3 separate regions of the Homo sapiens genome follow, and regions 1 and 3 are each linked to region 2. Evidence: fine-mapped expression QTL. A gene starts in region 2. Each other region holds a variant in brackets. All regions are shown on one strand. Distances are from middle to middle.

Evidence for each region. PIP is the estimated chance that this variant, and not a neighbour inherited with it, causes the effect. A credible set is the group of variants that fine-mapping cannot tell apart.
Region 1: its variant is the best candidate, but not a certain one, in a credible set for the expression of ISOC1 in atrial appendage (GTEx, PIP 0.74).
Region 3: its variant is the best candidate, but not a certain one, in a credible set for the expression of ISOC1 in whole blood (TOPMed, PIP 0.76).

Annotation. Positions count from the first base shown.
Region 1 is chr5:128,812,605-128,821,101 of GRCh38, forward strand. The region is part of intron 4 of LOC105379168 (a long non-coding RNA gene); the gene reads left to right. Among named protein-coding and RNA genes, the nearest start is that of SLC27A6, 150 kb to the right of the region's middle. The variant G/C (reference allele first, on the strand shown) is at 4,217.
Region 2 is chr5:129,091,005-129,099,501 of GRCh38, forward strand. ISOC1 (isochorismatase domain containing 1) reads left to right here and starts at 3,745. Exons shown (of 5, transcript NM_016048.2): 1 at 3,745-4,071. The coding sequence starts at 3,763. It overlaps LOC124901060 (a long non-coding RNA gene), which reads right to left and starts at 5,775. Exons shown (of 2, transcript XR_007058926.1): 1 at 5,545-5,775; 2 at 1,922-4,395. It overlaps MIR4633 (microRNA 4633), which reads left to right and starts at 6,684; the gene lies at 6,684-6,762. RefSeq lists a silencer at 3,363-4,142.
Region 3 is chr5:128,922,819-128,931,315 of GRCh38, forward strand. All of the region lies in intron 6 of LOC105379168 (a long non-coding RNA gene), which reads left to right. Among named protein-coding and RNA genes, the nearest start is that of SLC27A6, 38 kb to the right of the region's middle. RefSeq lists a silencer at 3,195-3,395. The variant G/T (reference allele first, on the strand shown) is at 4,964.

The DNA.
Region 1 (8,497 bases), 280 kb before region 2:
CATTTTATAAAATAGGATATTAATTATAATTGATACTTTCTTCTTTTACCAGGTATGCTATGAGAATTAGAATTTATCTAGGATCACTAAATGAAAACAATATAAATTTACAAGAAGCATTTTATAATAGTAGAAATGCTTTTATCACTTTTTCTAGAGTTAAGTCTCAAATTCAAAGTCTCAGAATTAAGGAAATTCTCAATTAAATTTCCTGTTGCAGTATTGTCCCTTGAACAATTTTTTTCAGAAATAATGAAAAGAGTCTCGTAAGCTTCCTGGCCTTAGGGTAGAAGTGGAGCCCAAGAGAAAGACAGAAGGGACACAAAATTCCTTCTTTGGATGGATATGCACAAACCAAATGTCCATTTATTTATTCCAACATACTTTGAGAAAGAAAAAAGGAAAGACTTATTTCCTTTTGTATAAGTGGTACTAGTAGTTCTTATTTATATACTACCCAATAATAAGATTAAATAGAAAGTTAAGAATCTGACTATGACCACTGACACACTTCTGTACATTTTTTTCTTTTAGGGAGCCAAGCATTTCCACATATCTAAAAAATCCTGTGCTATAATTTTTCCACATGTCTAAAGCATTTCCACATATCTAAAAAAACCTATCAGCAAAGTGTCAAAAAGAAAACTTTATAATTGCCATTTTTAAGAGCAATTCAATCAAAATCCAGCCAAAGAAAGTAAGCAAAGTTACTTCCAGTATGGAGTCTTTCAAATTTCTGTGTAACTTGGAACCAGTCTCTCAGGCCTTCTCTCTGCCTAAACATAGGCCAAAATTACATTTATGTTATACTATGGCTGCCCCAGGATCAAGGAAAGCAAACATTGTAGCCTATTCCTCTCAGAGTTCGAGTGGAAAAATGGGCCTGTGCCCCTCTGCTCTGTGATTTCCAATACGACATGGTGAGTCCATGGTGCCTCATTTCCTTCCTGATGCCCCCGTGTGTAACCAGTATTCTCATTATCATGCTTCAGATATTAACCAGAAACTACATTATTCTTACTGTTGTTTGGGAAAAAAAGAAAGAATTTACATGTTGTTTTTGTGTTTTATTTTAAAAGATTGGAAAAAGCACCTTCATATATGATTATATCAGCTCTTTCTCAAGGCCTAGTACAAGAGGTCACATTATCAAACACTTTGGTACTGCACACCCCATAATGCATTCCCCCACTATGGTGTTTCTGATTGCAGGACAACATTATTAAGTTAAGGCTTAATGTTCAAATATTTTGCAATTGTAAACTTAATTTTCAACACTGGCTCTCTATTGGTCAATTTGTTTTTGAAGTCAGGCTTCAGAATTTTATTCAAATTATTGGCGTTAAGTTGCTCTTTTTCTATTAAGTGTCTTTGAAGAATTATTTTTGGCATTTATTTGCTATCTTGTAACAAAATATATAATGGTTTAGCATAAACTCCACATTGAGCTGATTTCAATGCTTGTTGCCAGACCATTTATTTCATGATTTTCCCCATTTTTATCTTTTAATTTTGCTTCCTTCCTCTTTTATTAATGAGTGATTTTTAAAAGAAGAGCACACGTTTGGCATATTTTCTAAGGTCTAATATACCCAAGGATGTATTTATGCTACCTTCACACAAGAAGGACCATTTGTGAATAAAATTGTTGAATACTAAATTGTTCTCTTCAAAACTGTAGACATTGCTGCATCTAGCGAAAAAGGGCAATTTTTCATTCCTCTTAATTGGTAATTTTCTTTCCACAGTCCTCATTTTAATTTTCTCCATTTATTCCCATAAGGTATATGATTGAGCCATACTTCCTCAAAAGTCAGAGTATGTGGAATCTTTATTGTCTTGGGATATTGATGAATTTCTTTCTTGGTTGCACAATTAGGAGGCATTTTCTAGTAGATATACACATGGTGTACCTCATCTGTGCAGAGATAGCATCTTCACCTATCCTTGTCTTCTGATATCTGATGCTGTAAACTCATGGAACATATGAAAACACACCAAAGCACACTACTTCCGAGGACAATGACCTCTTCCCTGTCCTGCAGTATGTCACAAAACTCACAAGATGTTGTGAGTCCCTGCCAGTGCCCTCGGTTGTCGCTCTGCGCAGATCCTTGCCTAACTTCCTCTCATGAATTGCTTTCTCTGAGTGAATAAAGAAAGGTGGTTAGTGAAAAGTAGGAGAAGTGGATTGTGCTAAAAGGTGAAAGAGTTTGTACGACTGCAGTGTTGTGGTTTGCTAACTAATCCAGTTTTTATCTTATGATAGATCCTGATTCTCTGGGTCTGGGAGCAGGTGGAAGGAGAGGTTATCCTGAGGTTTTTGGTGTGTTCATAATTTTTTTAGAAAAGTATTTCATTACAAGAAGCATTGCCTGGGTAGGTAAACAAACAGACAAACAAAAATAACAACTTTTTCAGCCCTTTGCCCTTACAACATTCATTTCTAAAATTTCACCAAGTCAGGCTGGAATCAGAGTCATGGTTAGTTATCATCACTTACGTGCAGATTAATCTTAGGAAAAAATAGAAAATATTGCTAATTCCAACAAAGATATAAAATAAGAAAATGGCCATTTATTTTGAGCAAAAGAAAACAATTATTTTTCTGTTACATATTTGAAGCTTTAGTGGAATGTGAAAGTTAAACTCCTTATTCACAGGACTTGTTTTACAGTTGAGACCTTTCAAGGGCCCATTCCGTTCCAAATACTAGTGCCATTAGCCAAATCTGTAGCCCTTTAGAGCAATCAGTAGGATCGAATTTCAGGAATGCAGGGAAGCCCTGCTCAGGCTAAGGGCTGCATAGGGAGCTGGCCTTGCCTTTGCAGACTCAGGTGTTCAGGTCCGCTGAGAGGCAGATGGCTTCCATGAGACAGAAAGAGTCTAGGCAGCAGGACTCCCGTTGGTGTGTAAGCCTACCGAACAGGAAGCTATAGCTCCCTTACCACCTAGGGCAGAGTGCTTCCACATCATATTTCACTGAGTCACAGTTTTCTGAGAATGTCCTAACAGTTTCATAATGACATTTTTATGTGGCTTAATTTTCCTAATTTGCTACAACTTGCATTACGTCTCTAACATTATGTCTCTACTTGCCTAAACCAAGGACCAGATGGAATATATTCTGGTCAGACATCCAGACAGTTACTATTTAGGGGATAATGTAGCCTTTTAAAATTTTTCACAAGAGAATAAGGTCGGATTTTAGTACTCTCTACTCACAGGATAAAACTTATGCCAAGATAAATTTCAGCCCCCAATATTATCTTTCAGTCGGAAACATTTCATCTTGGTTTTAGGGATCCATTTGGTTTTTCAATATTTGGTAGCAGTGAGCTAACATATAAAATGAGATATAAATATTTGGCAAAGTATATAAACAATTTCCTTGATCTAGTGCAAAAATATTGAATTTCTGTTTCAGCACAGAAATATGGTTAATGGCAATTATATTTATGATATGTAAGGATGATTATATGTTAGGACTCAAAAGAATTGTACAGTTGAGCACTTGAACATATTTCTGCTAAATCAATTTTAGTAACTAATACAATCTGAAATAAGTAACTTTTGGGAAAAAATTCTTATGAGTTTTTGGTAGATCAACTACTTCTTCAAAAGCCAAACTTAACGTCCTATTTGTTGGGCCCTGTAACATCTTCCCAGTCATTACCATACTTGATCTCATAGAATAATTGATATTCTTATTCCTTTTCTCCTTTACAGTTTCTATTTGGTTTGTGCAATGTTATTCTTAGTTCTCCCTCTACCCCTATAAATGTTCCAGCTCAGCTTGTGATAATTTCTTTCTCTTTTTCTGCTCCATAATTGTAGGTATGCTTCTAAGTTCTGCCGTATTTTGTTTTTCTGTCTCTTATACTTAGTTCTGAAAATAAAAATAAAAATACCTTCATCTGACCATGGAGGTTCAAAAAGCTGTTGTTTCAACACAGATCTCCAAATTATTCTCTTCTAAATAGTAATTCTGAATTTCTGATTGGCTGATTGCATTTCTACCTCTACAACTCATCTAACAATCCAACATAAAAATTGATAATTAAATGTATTAGTTTCTTTTTAAAACTGATTTTCCCCCTATTTTCATTTTATTTGTGTGTGAAACAGCCGTCTTCTTATCACTGAGGCTAAAATACTCCAGGCTGTCATTAATTGCATCTTACCACCCCCATCTAATTTGCCACCATGTTCTGTT[G/C]AATCTAACTGCTAAATCTCTTCCTTGGAAAAGGTTTCATCAATTTACAATTCACAGTCCCTACCAAAGTGTGTGCAAGACTTTCTCTACATTCATGTCAACATTGTATACTAAAAATGTTTTAATCTTTAGAGGGAACATTACTACCAACCTTACAGAAAATTTTCAAAAAATTATAAGAGAATTCTATGAACACTTTGTACGCTGAAAACTTAGATAACTTAGATGAAATGGACAAATTGCCAGAAAGACACAAATTATCAAAACTGACTCAAAAAGAAATAGAAAATTGGAAATAACCAACAACAAGTAAATAAATTAAATTAATAACTTAAAAGCTTCCCCCAAAGAAAATCCCAGACCCAGATGACTTCACTGGTGAATTTTAACAAACATTTACAGAATAATTAACAATTGTGAATAAATTATTCCTACAATACAAAAGATGAGAGAAAACCTCCCAATTCAATCTATGAAAACAGTATTACCCTAATATCAAAATTGGACAGACATCACAAAAAAAGAAAACAAAAGACAAATGTTTCTTGTAATTATAATTGCAAAAATCCTCAACAAAATGCTAGCAAACCAAATATAAAATGAATGAACCTTGAAAACACAAAAGAAATTTTGTGACCACTTATACGAATGTGATTCTATTTATATGAAATATCCAGAATAGGAAAACCTATCAAACCCACCAGGCACCATTTAAAAAGCATTATATACAATTAACAAGTGGGATGTAGCTGAGAAATACAAGGTTGGTTTAAATCTTAAAATCAATTAATGTAATATAGTATATCAATAAGATGAAAAACAGAAGACACAGGGTAATCTTAATAGCCACAGGAAAAACATTTTAAAAAAACCAACACCCTTTATAATAAATATACTCAACAGACTTAAAATACAAGAAAACTTTCTCAACCTAATAAAATGCATCTGTAAAAATCCCAGTACTAACATCATTTTTAATGGTGAGAGACTGAGAAAATCTTTTCTCTGAGATCAAAAACAAAATAAGAATGTCCATTCTCATCACTTCTATCCAACACTGTACTGGAGATTCTAGCCAAGGAAATAAGGCAAGAAAAAGAAATAAAGAGCATCTAGATTGGAAAGGTTGGAAAGGAAGAAGTAAAACTGTCTGTATTTATGCATTACATGGTCTTATATATAGAAAATACTAAAAAAACTCATTAAAAACTATTAAACCTAAAAAATGAATTCAACGAAATTTTAGGATACAAGATTAATACACAAAAATCAGTTGCATTTCTCTATATTAGCAATAAAAATACAAAAAAATGAAATTAAGAAAATAATTCAATTTACAATGGCATCAAAAGGAATAAACTATTTAGGAATATATTTAATCAAGGAAGTGTGTGATTTATAAACTGAACACTACAGAACATTGTTTAAAAAATTAAAGGAGACCTAAATAAACAGAAAGACATCAAATGTTAATTGATCAGATAACTCAATATTGTTAGATAAAAAGACTCCAAAAATTATCTACAGATTCAGAACAATTCCTCTCAAAATTTCAGCTGGATTCTTTGTAGAAATTCACAATCTGGTCCTAAAATTTATATGTAAATACAAGGGCCAAGAGTAGCCCAATAAATCCTTAAAAAGAAGAACAAACTTGGATAACTCACATTCCCTGAATTTAAAACTAACTATAAACTATAGTAATAAAGGCAGCATGGTACTGACTATATATATGTGTGTGTATATATATATATATATATGTGTGTGTGTGTGTATATATATATATGTGTATATATATATATGTGTATATATATATATGTGTGTATATATATATATATATATATATATATACCAATATAATTTAATTTAGAGTCTAGAAGTATGCCCAATTGGTACCCTATATCTAGAATTGTCTATGTCTAGAAAAGAACCAAGGCAATTCAAATGATAAAAATTGTCTTTTTAGCAAATGGTACTGGAGCAAGTGGTATTCACATGCAAAAGAAGGAAGTGGACTTCTTCCTTCAATCTTTGAAGAATTAAATCAAAATAGATTATAGCTAAAACTATAAAACTCTCAAAAGAAAATATAGGAGTAAATCTTCATAAGTTTGGGTTAGGAAAGCCTTCTTAGACACAGAAGTACAAGTAATGAAACAAAAATAAATAAATTGGACTTGATCAAAATTAAAAACTTGTGTGCTTCAATGGACATCATCAAGAAAATGGAAAGACAACTCACAGAAAAGAAGAGAATGTTTGAAAATTATTATCTAACAAGGGACTTGTTTCAAGAATATATAAAGAGCTGTTTGCACTTAACAACAACAAGACAAGCAACCCAATTTAAAAAATGGCAATAGATTTGAACAGATATTTTGCAGAATAATTACAATAAAAAAGAGAATCTAGGCCTAGAGTCTGTACTCTTGACTTACTTAGACAGTAAGTAGTGTTGGTTGGTATATGGAAAAACTGAAACCCTTATATATTGCTGGTGGGAATGAAAACTGTTACAGATGTTTTGGAAAACAGTTTGGCAGTTCTTCAAATGTTAAATATGCCAGTGATTCCACTCCAAGGTAAATACCTAACATATAAATATGGGCATGAATGTTCATAGCATCACGTTCATAATACCCAAAAATGGAAACAACCTAAATATTCATAAACTGATGAATGGATCAATAAAGTGGAACATTATTTGGCAATAAAAAACAATAAAATACTGATATGTACTACAAAATGGATGAGCCTTGAAAAGATTAGGCTAAGTGAAAGAAGCTGGTCATGAAAAACCATTTTGTGAACATTAAATGAATGTGATTTCATTTATATGAAATATCGAGAATAGGAAAATTCACTGAGGCAGAAAGAAGATTAATGTTTGGGAATGGGGGAAATGGCACATGATGCTAATCGGTAGCATTATCACTTTTGTGGGGTGATGAAAATGTTTTCAAATTGTTTCAGAACTCTGAATATATTAAAACAATGAATTGTATACTTTATGTGGGTGAATTGAATGATATGTAAATTATATATCAACAAGAGTGTGAAATGTTTGCAATCAAAGTGAAAAAAATACATATCATTTGGATTTCATTTGTTATATATTTGACTATGTGAAAGTGAGCATCTTTTAATATGATTATAAGCCATTATAATTAACTATTTATTGAGTACTCAATTTGTTTTTCTTTTTTTTTTTTTCTTTTATTATTATACTTTAAGTTTTAGGGTACATGTGCACATTGTGCAGGTTAGTTACATATGTATACATGTGCCACACTGGTGCGCTGCACCCACTAACTCGTCATCTAGCATTAGGTATATCTCCCAATGCTATCCCTCCCCCCTCCCCCGACCCCACAACAGTCCCCAGAGTGTGATGTTCCCCTTGCTGTGTCCATGTGATCTCATTGTTCAGTTCCCACCTATGAGTGAGAATATGCGGTGTTTGGTTTTTTGTTCTTGCAATAGTTTACTGAGAATGATGATTTCCAATTTCATCCATGTCCCTACAAAGGACATGAACTCATCATTTTTTATGGCTGCATAGTATTCCATGGTGTATACGTGCCACATTTTCTTAATCCAGTCTATGATTGTTGGACATTTGGGTTGGTTCCAAGTCTTTGCTATTGTGAATAGTGCCGCAATAAACATACGTGTGCCTGTGTCTTTATAGCAGCATGATTTATAGTCCTTTGGGTATATACCCAGTAATGGGACGGCTGGGTCAAATGGTATTTCTAGTTCTAGATCCCTGAGGAATCGCCACACTGACTTCCACAATGGTTGAACTAGTTTACAGTCCCACCAACAGTGTAAAAGTGTTCCTATTTCTCCACATCCTCTCCAGCACCTGTTGTTTCCTGACTTTTTAATGATTGCCATTCTAACTGGTGTGAGATGGTATCTCATTGTGGTTTTGATTTGCATTTCTCTGATGGCCAGTGATGATGAGCATTTTTTCATGTGTTTTTTGGCTGCATAAATGTCTTCTTTTGAGAAGTGTCTGTTCATGTCCTTTGCCCACTTTTTGATGGGGTTGTTTGTTTTTTTCTTGTAAATTTGTTTGAGTTCATTGTAGATTCTGGATATTAGCCGTTTGTCAGATGAGTAGGTTGCAAAAATTTTCTCCCATTCTGTAGGTTGCCTGTTCACTCTGATGGTAGTTTCTTTTGCTGTACAGAAGCTCTTTAGTTTAATTAGATCCCATTTGTCAATTTTGGCTTTTGTTGCCATTGCTTTTGGTGTTTTAGACATGAAGTCCTT
Region 2 (8,497 bases):
TTCTTATAATTAGTATTTCCTCCATATTTTTCAAATTCTTAATTACAGTGAAGGCATTCCTTTCCAGTAGTATATGATTCTAGTTCATCTTGCTGGAAGTTTAAAAAAACTGCCAGGGGCTATCTGTGCTCCACAGATATTAGTGGTTAGGTATTCATTATCTGCCCAACAGTGGGTGACCCAGCTCCAAAATCCATCCACATTGGCCTCCTTTCATCTTTCCTAGCAACAAATGTCACAGGTTGATTTCCCTGGAAAGCAGACTCTGAGATAAAAATCAGCACACTGAAGACTTAATAGACAGTGCTATTTTGGCTATTATTTCTTCCAATATTCTTTCTGTTCCATTCTTGTCTCATCTCTCCCTCTTGGACTCCAACTACATATTAGATCATTTGATATTGCCCTCCAGGTTACTAAAACTGTCATCATACTTTTTTCAATCTCTTCCTGTTCTTCACATTGGATAATTTCTAGTACTCTGCATGCAATTTCACTAATCATTTCTTCTGGAACCTATAATCTGAAGTTTAGATTACCCAGTGAGCATTTCACTCCAGACATTGCACTTTTAGCTTGAAAAGTGACATTTGGCTATGTTTTCAGTCATCTCCATCTCCCTGCTGGTATTCCCTATCTGCTCAGTCTTATGGCTACCCTTTCTTTTAAGACCTTGAATATACTTGTAACAACTTCTTTAAAGTTCTTTTTCTCTTAATCCTAACATCTAGATTGTCTTGAGGTCTATTTTTATATACTGGAGGATTCTGAACACAGCAGTGACACGCTCTAAATTTATGTTTTTGAAAAAGTGCCACTCTAATAGCCGTGTGGTAAATGGAGTATAAAAGTCTATGTAAATGAGGTAAATGGATAAATAGGGATACAAAAGTCAAATATTGGGCACAACTTATGATGAGTTACAGTTAGATGGAAGACGACAGTGGTTTTGTCTTAGGTGGTGGCACTGGTGTGAATGAGAGGAATTTGGTTCTGACCACCAGGTCTTGCTGATAGACTGGACAAGGACAGAAAGAGGAGTAAATTAAAGGATAAACCCCTGGTTATTGTACTCAGTTACTAAAACGGGGTTGCCATTTGCCTAGATATCAACAGGGGAGAGAAAATATTCGAGGACAGAAGAAAACTAAGAGTTCTGTTAGTACATTTAAATGTGAGGTATCTATTGAATATCCAAGTGGAGATGTCGAATAGGCACTTGTGTATGAGTATGGAGTGCAGAGTGAGGGCCTGGATGTTAAAAATTTGGAAGTCAAAGGTATATGGGTGATATTTAAAGCCACAGTCTTAGGATAATAGATGTGAGGACTGAGCTCTGGTATACTTGTATTTATAGAGGTTTGGGGAATGAGAGGAACATAGGAAACGAGCTTGAAGTGAGGTGGAAGGAGAAATAAGAGAGAGTGGTATCCCAAAGACAAAGTGAATATGGTTCAAAATAAAGGGAGTAATTGGTTTGTCAAATGTTGCTGTTAACTGGGAAAGGTGAGAAATAAGCCTTTGTTTTATCAGTCTATTGAGATTTTGGGGTTTGTTTCTGTAGCATATTAATGTATTAATCAATACTGTGTAATATACCTTCTTGATTTTCTTGGAATTTAGATTCTAAAAGTAAGCATTTAACATTAACTAATAAAGCTACTGAGAGTCCTATATGAGAAAATTTTGGGCATTTGGTCCATAATATGATCTTGTCAATTAGAACAGTTATTTTCTACTTGTCATTTGAATATTCATTTATGGGGTCTTACTCACTTTTTCTGGTAACATTTATAAAAATTATCTTAATAATTGTATTTCTGAGGATAATAATTTATCACTGAAATGTGCATTCACCTCCCTTTTGCAGCCCAGTGATGCAGAGGTTGATACACAGTTGATATTCAATAAATGGTAAATGTGCCCATCAAATATCTATTTTATTAATGTTATTTAACATGCTATTACCACAATGATTGCACCATTAAACTAGGTTGTCAAGGACCAATCTCAGACAGCACAATATATATGGAAGTTGATTTCCTTACTGAAGGGTCAGAAACCTAATTTAAAAACATGAAAGGGAAATGAAGTATGTTGACTCACGGCCATGAGGGCCACGGCAGAAGACTGTGTAGATGCCAAGGTCCTCGCTGAGGATGTCTGAAGTCTAGGCCAATCTCTAATCTCCAACCTACTCTGTGTTAGGAGGCTTTACAGGGTGGAAGGAACACTTTTATTAGTCCACCCAAAATAGGTAGGTACCTTTTGGTAATCAGGTCTTGAGGGGGTACACTTATTAGCACAAATCAGCATATCTGCATATAGAAGACCTTGCAATGGAGTGGTATCCGGAAAAAAATATCATTTTGGGTCTGACGGGTTCAGACAACACTTTTAAATGGGATCTCTCAAAGTGTGATGAGAACCAGAAAAAAATGGCTATTTCTAGTAGCTTCGGTACAATTGAGCAAGAAACACCAAAGGATGGTCTTTTCATAACTTTAAAGCAGTGTGGTTCTCAAGTAGGGGGTATATTTGCCCTCTGGGGAATATTTGGCAATGTCTGGAAACATTTTTGATTGCCATAACTAGAGGGAGGAGCGGTCACTAGGCATCTAGCGGGAGTAGAAGCCGGTGATGCTGCTAAATATCCTGCAAATGCACAAGATGCCCCATCCCCAAGAAAGAGAAATGTCCATTCCAGAAGTCAACAGTGTCAGTTGGGAAACCCTGCTTTAAAGGTTATTTTCTTAGAAGAGGACAGCTTTAATACCTAAAATCTAATTTTATGTTTAGGCCCATGCCTATCTTCGCAGGACTCAATTCCAAGGAAATTCTGTTCATAATGCATGCTTTCTAATTCCAGTTAATTATAGCGCCTTACAGTGTGCAGAAGGCAGAGGATTGTTTTATTTGAAAGTGATCCCTTTTACTTACTTAAAAACAGATATCCTTAGTTTCAATATAAAGTTCAGATTTTTGCTTTTAATAGTATTTATATTCCCAAATCCAAGTCCTCCCAGAAATAGGTTGAGATGAAGGGAGGCCAGATATCAAATCCATTCCTAGAGATATTGTGTTCTGTGGGACCGAAAAAAGACAAAACTTGAACCTTGACTGGCCCTCTAAGGATTAAATTCTGCTGCTCTTCTTAGGGTATCTATCGGACTGTCCCTTTGGTTGTAAGATACCACTGCCATCTCGAGGAGGACTGCATGCTTCTGCACAGAGCCAACAGGTAACTCGTCCTGGCGGCTCTGTGTACCCAACCACAACCCTAGACTGCCAAGAACACTGCTCATTCGAAGGCGAGCGAAGCCGCGAAGAGGGCCAGCGTTAGGGGAAGGGTGGTACAAACCCTTGTGTGAGCTGCAGCACCGGGGCAAGAACAACGGGCAGCCCAGGCGGGTCTTGGGTCTGCGAGACCACTAGGCGTTCTGCCGGCAGTCAGAACCGCGGCAGAAAGGGCGCGAGCGGGGAACTGCGGGAACGCAGCGGCCCGGGAAGCTGGAGGGGGCGGACCCGGCCGGCGAGCGCAGGCGCTCCCTGGCTCACGCGCGCACCCCGGCCCCACCACCCACCCTTACGCCGCGGCCCGCCCTCCGGGGCGGGTAAGAGAGCGCGCGAGCAGCGGTCGTCAGGACACGCCCCTTCGCCTCCGCGAGCTGGCGGGCGGGCTGGCATCGCCGGGAGGCGGGGCCGCGGCAGCCGGCTGGGTGCGACTGGGCGGCCTCGGAGCTCGCAGACGCTCGGGGGAACATGGCGGCTGCGGAGCCGGCGGTCCTTGCGCTCCCCAACAGCGGCGCCGGGGGCGCGGGGGCGCCGTCGGGCACAGTCCCGGTGCTCTTCTGTTTCTCAGTCTTCGCGCGACCCTCGTCGGTGCCACACGGGGCGGGCTACGAGCTGCTCATCCAGAAGTTCCTCAGCCTGTACGGCGACCAGATCGACATGCACCGCAAATTCGTGGTGCAGCTGTTCGCCGAGGAGTGGGGCCAGTACGTGGACTTGCCCAAGGGCTTCGCGGTGAGCGAGCGCTGCAAGGTGCGCCTCGTGCCGTTGCAGATCCAGGTGGGTCCTGCGGGAGGCCGCGCGCTTCCCTGTTCCCGAGTCGTCCCCGTCCCCGTCCCTGTCCCCGCCTTCGCCGCGCTCCTCAGGTGCCCCGAGCCGCCCGGGACCCGGGCCCTGCGCGAGTGGCTGAGTCCGAAGGGCTGCGCGTCTTTCGCAAGTTCCGGGGCCGGCTGGGGAATGCCCCTGTCCAAAGGTGATGGTCACCAGCTGTCCCCGGCGGGGGCGTGGGCCTCGTAGCTGGTTTCAGCGCCCGCGAACGCCCCCACGTGTGTGGTCCTCGGTCGCCCGCATCCGCTTTTTATGCCAGGATCAGGTCCCAGCCTCCTGCGTAACCAAAGGGCTGTGCTGTAGTAGCTGTTTTTATTTTGGGGTGATGGGTGATGCAGAATGGGGGGAAATGAGATTGTGGGGAGTATTGGTCTTAGGGTTTGTTCCTAGAGTTGTGTTAACCACTTGCGGAAACGCAAACTTTGGGAGTCAAACCCATTCCCCCCCGCCTTCCCAGGCTCTCAGGTCCTTGGGCTTAAGAGTTCCCTAACCTTAAGCAAATAACCATTTGCTTAGCCTCCTCTTAGTAAAGTGTCTACTGACTTGATTACGTTTTGTCGTCTGCATTGAAAAAGTCATTTGACTCCATGATTGTAATTCCTTCTTGAATACAAATACCCAACTTAAGCTAGACCTTGAGTTCCTGGGCCTGCTGGCTGGGAAAGTTGTTCTACCTGAGGACTACTTAACAGCATTTATTTTAAGCTGTGCTCTCATGCTAGGCGGGTTAATCTTCCGCCCTCTTTAGGATCAGATTGTTCACTGGCGAATTTATATTTTGGAAAGGAAAGAATATAAGGTATAATTTAGGTAGTACACTGTCGATATCATTTCTTTAGCTGAGAAACTGATAAGTCATTTTTTCAGAAGACCAAACTGAAATGTGGGATTCGGGGATAAAAGGTATTTTAATATTTAAGTGTCATTTTCTTTCTTTTTTGTTTTTAGTTTTTATGGGCACATAATAGTTGTACATATTTATAGGAGACGTGATATTTTGATTCAAGCATACAGTGTAGTGATCAAATCAGGGTAATTGGAATATCCATTACCTGAAACATTTATCATTTATTTCTTTGTTCCAAATTCATTTTTGTAGTTATTTTGAAATATACAATAAATTATTGTTAACTATAGTCACGCTATTGTGCTACTGAACACTAGAGCTTATTCCTATTATCTGTGTTTTTTGTACCCATTAACAGTGCCATTTTCTGAGGATTATTCCCTAGTTTTTTTCCGCTGTAGTTGGCAGCTGAATTGATGATGTTTCCTGTCACCCCAACACCTGTGCCAGAAGTGTCCAAAGCAGGTACTTTAGCTTCGATAAAGTTCCTGCATTCAGAGGACAAAGTCAGAGACTGCACTCTCTGCCAGTGGAGAACCTGGAACTGGATACAGTGATCTGATACCCCAGAATCTTACCTGCTGCTCAGATAGGGAATTGCAGTTCTTAGGTGCTTAAGACTCCTCATTTTTATGTCTTCAAGCGTTTTCGTGTCTGACACCTCTCTGCAGCCTTCCTTGTCAGTCCTTTTACGTTACTGCTGCCAGAATACTCAGATGTTGGATGCACCTTTGAGAAGTCCATTTATAAAGGCTAGAATCCAAATACTAACTGCGGAGGTCTGGGACTAAGGATGCAGACTTCTTTATGAAGCATTTCCTGTTACGGCTTGGAGGGAGGCTGGGCTCTTATCTAAGATAATGCTATTCTAAACTAGGCCCCAGCTCTGTAAGAGTCCCCGCCTTCCAAGATAGGATTTTTATATTTGAAAATTTCAGGGCCTTGGTCTGGCAACTCTTAAAAACATTCTAGAAATTAATGAAATGTATGTACCTGAAAACGCTTGTACATTCTCAAAAGGCGTTATATAATTCTGGTCACCTGTAGCTTTTGCAGTGTTTTGCTTGGTATAGGAGATTATGTATAGTTCACTTTTTTTTGGTGAGGTTTAAAATAACAATAGCATTACTCTACTCCCTCTTCAGAAGAAATTTTTCCGCCAACTAGTCTAATAATTCTTAAGCATTAGTTATATTTTTGCATTTATATAGCTTTATATTTTTAATTCTTTAAAAATATTTTCTCTTCTATATTATCTCATTTTAGTAGTTATACTTTGACTTCTTCAGCCTGATGCCTCTCCTAGCTTAGAGGTAGATAAAGGAAGGGGATAGATACATAAATATGCACACACTGTGTATCGTATATACCTTCTGATACCGATTTATGTCTATATGAGAAGAGAGAGATATATATACACACATACATATATATGCATATGTGTGTATAATCTCAGAAAGTCATGATATTTCTCATGACTACTGTACACTATATTCTTTGGAACCTAACAGCATAATCCTAGAGACTTGGATGTTTTATGGCTGTAAGAGACCATACAGTTCATTCCACAACATGTGAGTGGCAGCTTTAAATGCCTGGCACAGTGAATGCAAACTTGGATTCAATTCTTGTTCCTTACCTAATAAATGAACTTTCACTTTGAGGAAGTGCAGAAGAACATAGGGAGGTGGAGGTGAGTAACTTGCTGCAGGTTACATGGCAAGTCTCCGCATATGCCTGGCTAGCTCCTCCACAAATGCGTGTGGAGGAGCTAGCCAGGCATATGCAGAGCGTCACTTACAGCCGAACACAGCACTACTGCTTGCATGTTTAATGAGAATTGAGCAGTCTGGAAAACAAGTCACAAACTTGAGCTCTTGTTTGTTCATTTGTCTTGGTGCTGCTCCTTGTTCTTTGGAATAAATGCTTGTCACTTAGGAAGACTCAAGGTGGCCTATCGGTGAGTCCATGTTACTGGGGATGGTTGGCCCCTTCTTGAAGGCAGGGACAAAGAGCACAAGTTTGGCCACATGTAGTTCATTGCGTAAATAGTGATTTATTATTTCTCCACACTTGGGCCCTGGAGCCTCTGTGGCCCTGGCTCACGTACTGTTAGTCTAGAATGTATTCTTCATTTGCGCCGTGGTATGAGTTGCCTTCGTGCTTATTCTGACAGCTGTGGCTGATGACCTTGTGAAACACAGTGGCTGCCTTTGCCACACTGCACCCGTGCTTGTTAGTGGTTCTATGAGAACTGATCTTTAAGACCCCCCATTGCCAGTATTAGGCTGTGGTAAGTTTTTGGTGACTTCTTTTCTTAAATATTCTGTCAAAGTAACAATGTCTGCCGACAGCTCAGGTAGATGAAGGCATAGCTCATGTTTCATGCTTGGTTTGTATGTCTGCAGCTTTGCCAAATGCTTGAGATCTGATGAATTTTGAGACACGGGAAAGAATATAAATGAGAGGATTATGTAGTGGGGATTTACGTCATTTTTATGACTTAAAAGTTTTAATTTTTCAAAAGGTATTTTGTAAGTTTTAGGTAAAGGAAACATTTAACTATGGAAATTTACATAAATGTTGTATCATGCTACCACCAGTGCATTTTCCAGCCTGTGGCCAGGAAAGACAGAGCCTGCAGAGAAGAGAGGAGGAAATGGACAGTGTAAGAAGGATGCCAGTGAGGGGATTTTACTTCTGTACATAGCAGGGAAGGCTTTGGCAGCTTTCTGTGGCCAGAAGATAAGGGCGTTCCAGGGAAGGTTATTTTGACCTTTTCCCAAGATGGTTAACTGGCAGGGCATTTTGCTCCAGCTTTCATTTTCTTGGAAGTTTATTACTATTATTATTATTTTAAACAGGGGCATGAACATTTTATAGCTAGAAGAGACTGACAGGTTCATGGTGGGAAGGGAGGGAAGGCAGGAGGAAAGGAACCTTGTTCGCCTTTGGCTTGATAGTTTGAAGGTAGTGGTTTTTGATTACAAAACCTTTGCCTCAGGAGCGTGGCAGGAAGAGGGGGTAGATGAGCTAATGCTCAGAGAGGAGACAGCTGGATCCTGAGGTGGTTGTATTGTCTCTACCCCATTGGTTTGATGTGTGTCACTTAAAAAAAAATTAACATTCCAGAATAATACCTAAAGCATTGTATCCTTTTTTGCTCCTTCTGAATACATTAGAGCTACCTATAAATAAACTGTGTTTGAGAGTAGGAGCTATGATCTGAATTTTGAATTTTTTTTCTTGCATTTAGCTAACCAAGGGAATCCCAATGTAGATTCAAATGTCATTGTGGTCCTGGGCTTGTCTAGCTTCACCTTCACCCCAGTCTGAGGCACAGTCTTAAGAAATCCTTCAGTCCTCACCCCTGGGGTGGGTGGAGACAGCTGGCGTCCCTTGGGGATTTAGAAAACTCATACCTTAACTGATAAGCTAGGGTTGTAACCTTATGCCAGTGACATCAATGTTCACAATAGGTGAATATGTTGTAAAAATAAGAGCCAATAAGTATTATTTCACAGCCTAAAT
Region 3 (8,497 bases), 170 kb before region 2:
TGATCAGAGACCTAAATATAAGAGCTTAAACTATAAAACTCTTAGAAAACATGTATATCAAACTCTTAAAAACTTAGGTATAAATCTTTGTTATACCTATGGATGTGGGAATGGTTTCTTAGAGATGACACCAAAGATACAAGAAATGAAGAAAAAATAGGTATCATCAAAATCAAACTATTTCATACTCAAATTACACCATCAGGAAAGTGGAAAGAACACCCATAGAATGACAGAAAAAATGTTCAAAGCATGTATCTGAAAAGGGATTTGTATCTAGACTATATAAAGAACAATTACAACTCCATAATTAAGAAGACAAATAATCCAGTTTAAACAAGGGCAAATGTTCCAAATAGACATTTCTTCAAAGAATATATACAAACATCCTTTTGTTTAATGCTGGTATTTATCAGGGAAATGCAAATTGAAATCCATGAGATACCACTTCACACCTCCTAGAATGACTATAGTCAAAGAAACCAAAAATAAAAATTTTTAGGGAGGATTTGGAGAAAGTGGAGCCCTCATACACTGATGGTGGGAATATAAAATTTGAAAAACAGTTAGGAAAAGCCTAGAGCTTCTTCAAAACGTTAAACATAGAGTTACCACATGATCTAGCAATTCTACTCCTAGGTATATACCCAAGAAAAATAAAAACATGTCCACACAAACATTTCTAAGTGATTGTTCATAGCAGCAGCATCTATAATAACCCAAAAGTGGAAACAACTTAAATGTCCATCAACTAATAAAATGTGGTAATATCGATATAATGGCATATTACTCCACAATAAAAAGAAATGAAATACTTCTACATGTTGCAACATTATGAACCTTGAAAACATGCTTAGTGAGAGAAAACAGACATAAAGAACCATATATTATAATAATTTCTTTTGTAAGAAAAGTTATACTATTATGTCCTGTTTTGTTGGGTAGTGGTGAAAAGATTGTGGTCAGAGCTAGAATGTCCCATCTTAGGAGAAACTTCCATAACCACCCATAGAAAGTAGCTACCCAATCCCTCTTTAACATGACTTAATTTTAATATTCTACATAAAACCAATCCAAATTTTATTTTTTTAAAAAGTATTTATGTACTTTATTGTCTTAACACTGAAAAGTAATGTATACAAGCAAAGAATTGCCCTTGTTATTCACAGCTGTATCTTTAGGACCAACAGTGGTGCCAGGCAGAGTTGGCCACCTAATAGGTATTCGTCACTAATAAGACATTTATCATAAAACTATGGGAGATTCAAAGATATAAATATTTAACACAGTGACCATTTCTTGGTACTGGTACTTTTTATTAATGTATTTATTAAAATTGATAAGTAAAAATTGAACTTATTTATGGCATATAAGATGATGTTTTGAAATATGTATACATTGTGGAATGACTAAGTCAAGCAAACATATGCGTTACCACACATACTTATTTCTTTGTGATGAGAACACATAAAATCTCTTCTCTTAGTGATTTTCAAATATACAATACATTGTATTAACTGTAGTCATCGTATTGTATTATAGGTACTGGTACTTTGAGTGCCCTATCTTGTGTAATCCTTAGCTCAGCCCTGGGAGGTCAGTAGTATTCTTTCCATTTTTAGAGAAATTAATAGTTCACTTCAGATCACACAGTCTGTACCAGGGCAAGATTCCAGTTAGATGCCATGCTTTAATGATTACACTGTACTATAGCCAGTGCTGAAGCAAGTACTATTGGGATTTAGGAGTGTCAGGGGATGCTTCGAGACAGAGGGATATTTTTAACTAGGTTTTGAATAAGAGGGAGACTTTTGTTCAGGTGGTGGGATGGCATACCATCCAAAGTGTGGGAGGAGGATAGCACAGAGCTTATAGAAAGCAATGAGTGGTTCAATTTGGCAGGAGTCTAAGATGAGCTACATTTGAGAAGAGGTTTTGAGAATGAGGTGAATATTATGATTAATTTGCTCCATTTTGCAGAAATGACTGGACCAATGTTGATGTTTCTTCTTATAAAGGCACTAGTCCCATTTGTGAGGGCTCCACCCCAATTACTTAATTATTTGCCAAAGACCTCACCTCCAAATATCATCACACTGGAGACTAAGCTTCAACCTAGGAATTTGGGGACACATCCTTTATCTCGGTTTCATCTCTCCCACCACATGTCCACTTTAGATCCCTTCTAGATTACAGCAAAAGCCCTGATATTCACCAACCATGCCCATACTTTTCTGTTTCTGTGCCAGGTCTCTTAATACCACTTTTGCCTGGAGCTCCTAGCTTCAGCCATATTGCCTTCTATCAACATTCTGTCTTTCCTGGCTCCTTTGAAACACCATTGGTTAAAGATCTTTCTGAATGCATCTCCCAATAATCAGATGTGCTACTAAATAAGATATGGTGTCTTCTTCATAATTATCAAGGAATCCAATATTTCTAGGTTTTTTTAAAATCAGTTTCTGAGAAAAGCTTCTCCATTATTCTTGTGGTATGCTCTCTTGTTTACATTTTGGTTTTTCTATTTCAGATAATACTGGGGATTTGCTCATGTAGTTCATCTGTATCTATATACTTGTTAAACTCTGCATAGAAACTTTCTGAAGGAAATAATAATGATAATTATTATAGCTAATCATTCCCATTTTCTATGTTATTCAAACATGCCTGTATGATGTACTAAAATTATCTCTATTACTTAGTACTGTACTTATGACAAAGTAGGAGCTCAAATAATTCTAATTTGCTGAAAACTCTACAGTCTAACTGATATGTTGGAAATAATCTACATGTTATGTCTTCATAGGAACTTCATTTATGATCATTCCTTTCTTTCCCTAAATGGTACCTAAAAAAAGATTCCATTTCACTTTTATTGAGCATCTACTCAGTGTAAGACTATTCTTTTTAATGCATGGAATGCAAGAACTGTGATAGTAACTGGCTTCATAGATCTTAGCATCAACTGTAAGGATAAGGCAAGAGTATTTACAGGTAATTGTAGGTAATAAAAACTGCAATTAGAAGCACACAAAATATTCTGTAGAATTCAAAGAAAGGAGAGATCATATCACATTAGAAGTTAAAAGAAAGATTTCATGGAATAGTTGACATATCATTCAGGCAGTGTGGCAGAAACTTCTAGTTGCCCACCTGAATATCCATTTACCCTTTCCTTTTTAGGAACAGAATTCTGATTTTTAGCTGAGCTCATTGATGCGTGAATAGAAAGACTGCATTTCACAGGCTCCCTTAAAGCTGAGTGCAATCATGTGACTAAGCACTGGCCAAAGAAATGTCAACGGAAGTGTTATGTGTGATTTCTGTCAATGTCACTTAGAAGTAGCTGACTTGCAGAGAGAAAGGAGATAAATCTTTTTTTTTTTTTTTTCATCACTATTCTGCCTTTTGTCTGTCTTTTGGCCCACACCCTCAGATATAATGGCTGGAGTTTCACAGACTATCCTGGGTCATGAGGTGACTCGAAGACGGAAAACTTGCCCTAGTCTGATAGAGCAGAAAGACAGAAATTGTGTTCTTATGAAAACATGGAATGAACTTTCTACCTCCAGACTTATTTTACACAATAATGAAATAAACTTCTAACTTATGTAAGCCCCTATTATTCAGAGATATTCTGGTCCATCCCACTAAAACAGATTCTAATCTACAGCCCTGGAGGCTTTCACTAAAGGCAGGCGGAGCAAAGTAAATGGCACACTGTTAGGAAATTTTATAATTTTACCTTTATTCTCATTTTGGTCATTCCTATAAAACCTCTGGCAATATTCCTTGTGGTCCTCTTTCCTTCCACTAACACTTAACCGTCACAACAGGCAGTCTTACTCAGTAATCAAAGATGTGGACTCTCGAGTCAAGACTCTATAGGTTAAGATCCCAGCTTGGCCTCTCATGAGCTGTGTACTTTGAGCAATGATTTAACCTTTCTCATTTCCTCAACTGCAAAATTTATACAGCAGTAAGATCCAGCTCACAGGGTTTTTGTGAAGATTAAATTAGTAAAGGATGTACAGTAAGACCATAGAACAGTAACAGGCTCACAGTAAGTGCTCAGTAAATGTTAGAGAGAAATGTGACTATCAATTCAAGAATGGCTTGTTGAATGTCAGTTATGTGTTAAGCTTTATATTCAGCTTGGGTACAAGGGAGTAAATAAATCACATTCCTTAGCAGTTCACAGTATAGTTCTCTGTGAGAAAAATATATATCTATATTTTGGGGGATGATTTTCTTCTAGCTCCATGTCCTGTTAACCACACCAAGCCAGTCTGAATTATAAAACAGTGTTTTTGTTTTGTTTTGTTTTGTTTTTGAGACAGAGTTTTGCTCTGTCACCTAGGCTGAAGTGCAGTGGTGCAATCTTGGCTCACTGCAGTCTCAACCTCCTGGGTTCAAGCAATTCTCATGCCTCAGCCTCCCAAGAAGCTGGGATTATAGGCACCCGCCACCACACCCGGCTAATTTTTGTATTTTTAGAAGAGACAGGGTTTTACCATGTTGCCCAGACTGGTCTCAAACTCCTGAGGTCAAGCAATCCACCCGCCCTGGCCTCTCAAAGTGCTGAGATTACAGGTGTGAGCCACCACACCCAGCCAACAATGTTTAATCATTGGATAAATTATACAATTCAATGCATTCTCCCCTGGCAAGAAGAAATGCCCTGGCATGGTACACAGGAAGATCAAAATGATAATATCATGAGATCTACCCCCACAAAAAATATTTGAGAGACTTCCTTTCAAAAACTTCAAATTAATTATAACTCAGTTTAGGGAGACCTGAAAATGAGTAATGACAAAGTACGGCAACATCAAAAATATCTTATATTACTATAATTTGTGCAAATGCCAAATTAAATGTTATAAGCTATCTGAAAAGAATTTTTGCGCTATGAGAAAGATGACAAAGCAATTTCCACATGGCTTCTACTGCCTGTTCATAT[G/T]TTTATACTAAAAGATACTTCCTCTATTGTCCACATGGCTTTTACCAACCCCCACTTCCACTTAGAACTATTAGAGGAAGTTGCCAAATTATTATGAGTCAGTTGTTTAGAAATTGAACATTATTATACAGGTAGCCTACCTAACTCACAGTGTGCCTAAATATGGCAATAATAACACTGACTCCAACATTGTACTCTAAGCTCTCTCAGAGGAAAATTCATAGCAGATTCTTACTTGAGATGACAAATTACGTCTCACGGCTGTAATCTCTTCCAACACACTCTCTTCAGTCACTGGGAATAATTACTGGGATATGGACAAAGAGTTCCATCCATCTGGGGTTTGGGTAAAGGACAATAGGAAGAGAAAAAAGGAGTCCCCAGGGGCTCTTGGTTCTGCATCAGCTTCTAATTGCATTTCTTACAGGGCCAGGAGATTGGTCCACATATTTCTAGTTCTACTATCCTGGCCTGTTCTTCTGGCTATGGGTTGTCTCCTCTCCCAGGCCACTGCCCTGTGAAACTACAGTTCTTCTCTAGTCTCCAGTTCCTGAATCAAGTATACAGTCCTTTGGAGCAGTGGTTTTCAACTATTTTTTTTTACATGATCTGCAGCAATAAAAGCATTTGACACCATAATTAAATAAATATGTACCTCTACATAGACATAAGTGAAAGAAAAGTTTTACAGGGCAAAACTCATCCTACTATGTGATATGCACACTCTATTCCATTCTATTAAAAAATGTTTGTTATCATGGCTTACTAAGTCAATTTTATGACTGTTTTATAGATTATACCTCACAGTTTGAAGAACTGTGCTTTAAACATTAAAAAAAACTTTAAAAAAAAGTCTAAAAACTAACATAAACAATTTCAAATCATCTCGAAAATGTCACACTATACTGGACATTTAGTTTATTTTGACGTTTAGGGCTTTGAAACTCCTCACTATGGAAACTTCTCTACCTCATGAAAACTGGAGAGATAAGGGTATGTTTCCTACTGCAAAATTGCCACTGTCCAGACACACTATTTCTCTGGCCCCTAGAAATAAGGGATGAGCATGTGACCCTTTCAGTTTCTTGGTTTGGAGCAAGAATTCATTCTGGCAGCATAAATTAACATTGGCTGCATGGGTAGTGGTACAACAGAGTACACTGTTCATTGTGGAATGGGCCTGGGTGCCACATGTTGCACCCCGTAGCCAGCAAGAAGGATAACAGTATCTGCATCCACATGGTGTTTGGTGGTGTGGTTTTAGCTGTAATCATTGTGTCCAGCCTCCTTTTATCCTTACCTTGCCCATGTCTGATTCTCCAGCCTTTCTAGTAGTTCCCTTTCTTTTTAAATCTGCCACTGTGTAAGTTGGTTTCTCTGGTTTGCAATGACTTGCAATCTATTTCCCTGAGGTTTAACTCAACATTAGGGATTTTTCCTCTGCTTTATGCAAAAGAACACTATCTCAGAGATTCTTTGCAAAAATATTCATTAGAGGCCTGTGAAGGAAAGGATGGGAACATTGAGAGGTGAAAGTTTGATAGGAGAATTGATAATTCAGCTTGCTGGTGAGAGAGTAAGTAGAGAAAGAATCTATCTTGGGATTTTTTCACCTTCCTTTCTTCAACAGGATCCTCATTATATCCCTTCTACTGTCAAAAATCCTGGTTGGGGTCAGGGTCGGGCAACAAAAGACCAATATTCAGTGAGGGAGAAAAGGGAAGGCAGTCATAAGCAATGAAAGAGAAGGGAGCCCTAGTTGTATCATTGGGGAATAAAACTAATTCATTATGGCCACTCCGTTTCACATGCTGGGGGCCCGTCCTGGGTATGTACAAGAAAAGAAATGTGTATGAAGCAAAAATGTGTCTAATGCCATCTGCAGTCATCTAAAGACCAGTGTAAAGAAGCATGTATTTTTCTGCATAAGTATCATTATTATTATCAAGATTATTTAGTATTTGTTAATAGACTGTGAGATCTAGTTTAATTCTTTCCAGTAACAAGCTAGATGGCCAGTGTAAATTTTCGTAGTTGATTCATCCAGTTGGTGCCTTAATTTCTGCACAACTTCTCATCAATAGGCCATAGCAAGGGGTCCTCAAATGCAAAGAAGTAGGTTTGTTGGGGAAAGTGCCCATTAAATTCCATTGTTTTCCTCTTTAGGATATTATGTTTTGACATTTCAACTGTCCTCATTGCACAAGAGTTTTCAGACTAAATGTTTGGTATATAAATCCAATAAGGATATGTTGAAAACTTTAACTCATACTTAAAATGCCACCAGTTTCCCAAATCTGTACTGGATTAACACCCACATGTAAATGTGATGATTCCTTATAACTGCTTCGAAGTTAAGTGAGCACAACTGTGTTCTTGTAGCAAATAAGCACTTGTGAAATATCGAATGAAACAAGCATGAAATACTAGTCAGTTAACAAAAATGCAAAAAAAAATGTTTTTACTACTGACTAGTAAAAATCAGTCTAAATAATTTCATTTAGACTGATTAATTTACCTTACCCAGTGAGCATGTAGATACAATTAGTAAAAATAGAATATGAATATAAATAGCAGTTTTGATGCTTAGAAAAATTTGAAAACGTGATATTTGCCAGCATTAAGCTCATGAATTTTCATTTAAAAATACAATTTTAGAAATTTTTCTTCTCTTTGCTTGCAGTGTGATATTGAGAAATAGATGTAAGGCCCAGATGTTATTCATATAAATTCTTAAGCAGTAGAGATTTTAAACAATATGAGTACATGATTAACAGGTATTGCCTGTGATTTCGGATTTGAACATGATTAAGGCTGGGCTGCCTACATCTGCTGAATTCTGAGATATGAAGGGACAGGATCTTTGGGGCATCATCTAGTTTATCCAATGAAGTATTAATGTGTTGGAAAAAAATATTTCTTGTTCATGGGCCAAACAGAGTCATGTGTCACTTAGCAATGGGGGGTCATTCTGAGAAATGGGTTGTTGGGTGATTTCATCCCTGTGTGAACATCCTAAGAATATGGCTACTAAAGTTAGCTTCCAGAAGGGACAGATAAACTTATTCTCACAAATATTTACATTATCAAGAAGAAAGGGGAAAATACTTATAATTTTTAAAATAAGAAGAGACAGTTTTAATCTTTTATCTAATTGATTTAAAAATTATTGAATTAGCTGGGCATGGTGGCACACAGCCATAGTCCTAGCTACTTGGGAGGCTAAAGTGGGAGGATCGCTTGAGCCCAGGAGTTCAACATTACAGTAAGCTGTGATCACACCACTGCACTCCAGCCTAGGTAACAGAGACACCCTATCTCTAATAATAATAATAATTTGAAGGGTTATCATAGTCAAAACAATGTGAAGATTTTTAATATGTTACTCATTTTTTTATAAATTTCTAAGTGCTACCTTATTTAGGCATGGTAACCTTGAAATATTCACATGTTTAGAGTAAAAAAAAAATGAAAAGTGAAGTGAATTAATTTTTGGAAGAGTCAGAAGTTAACCTTGGGAATGATTTCAGGTGA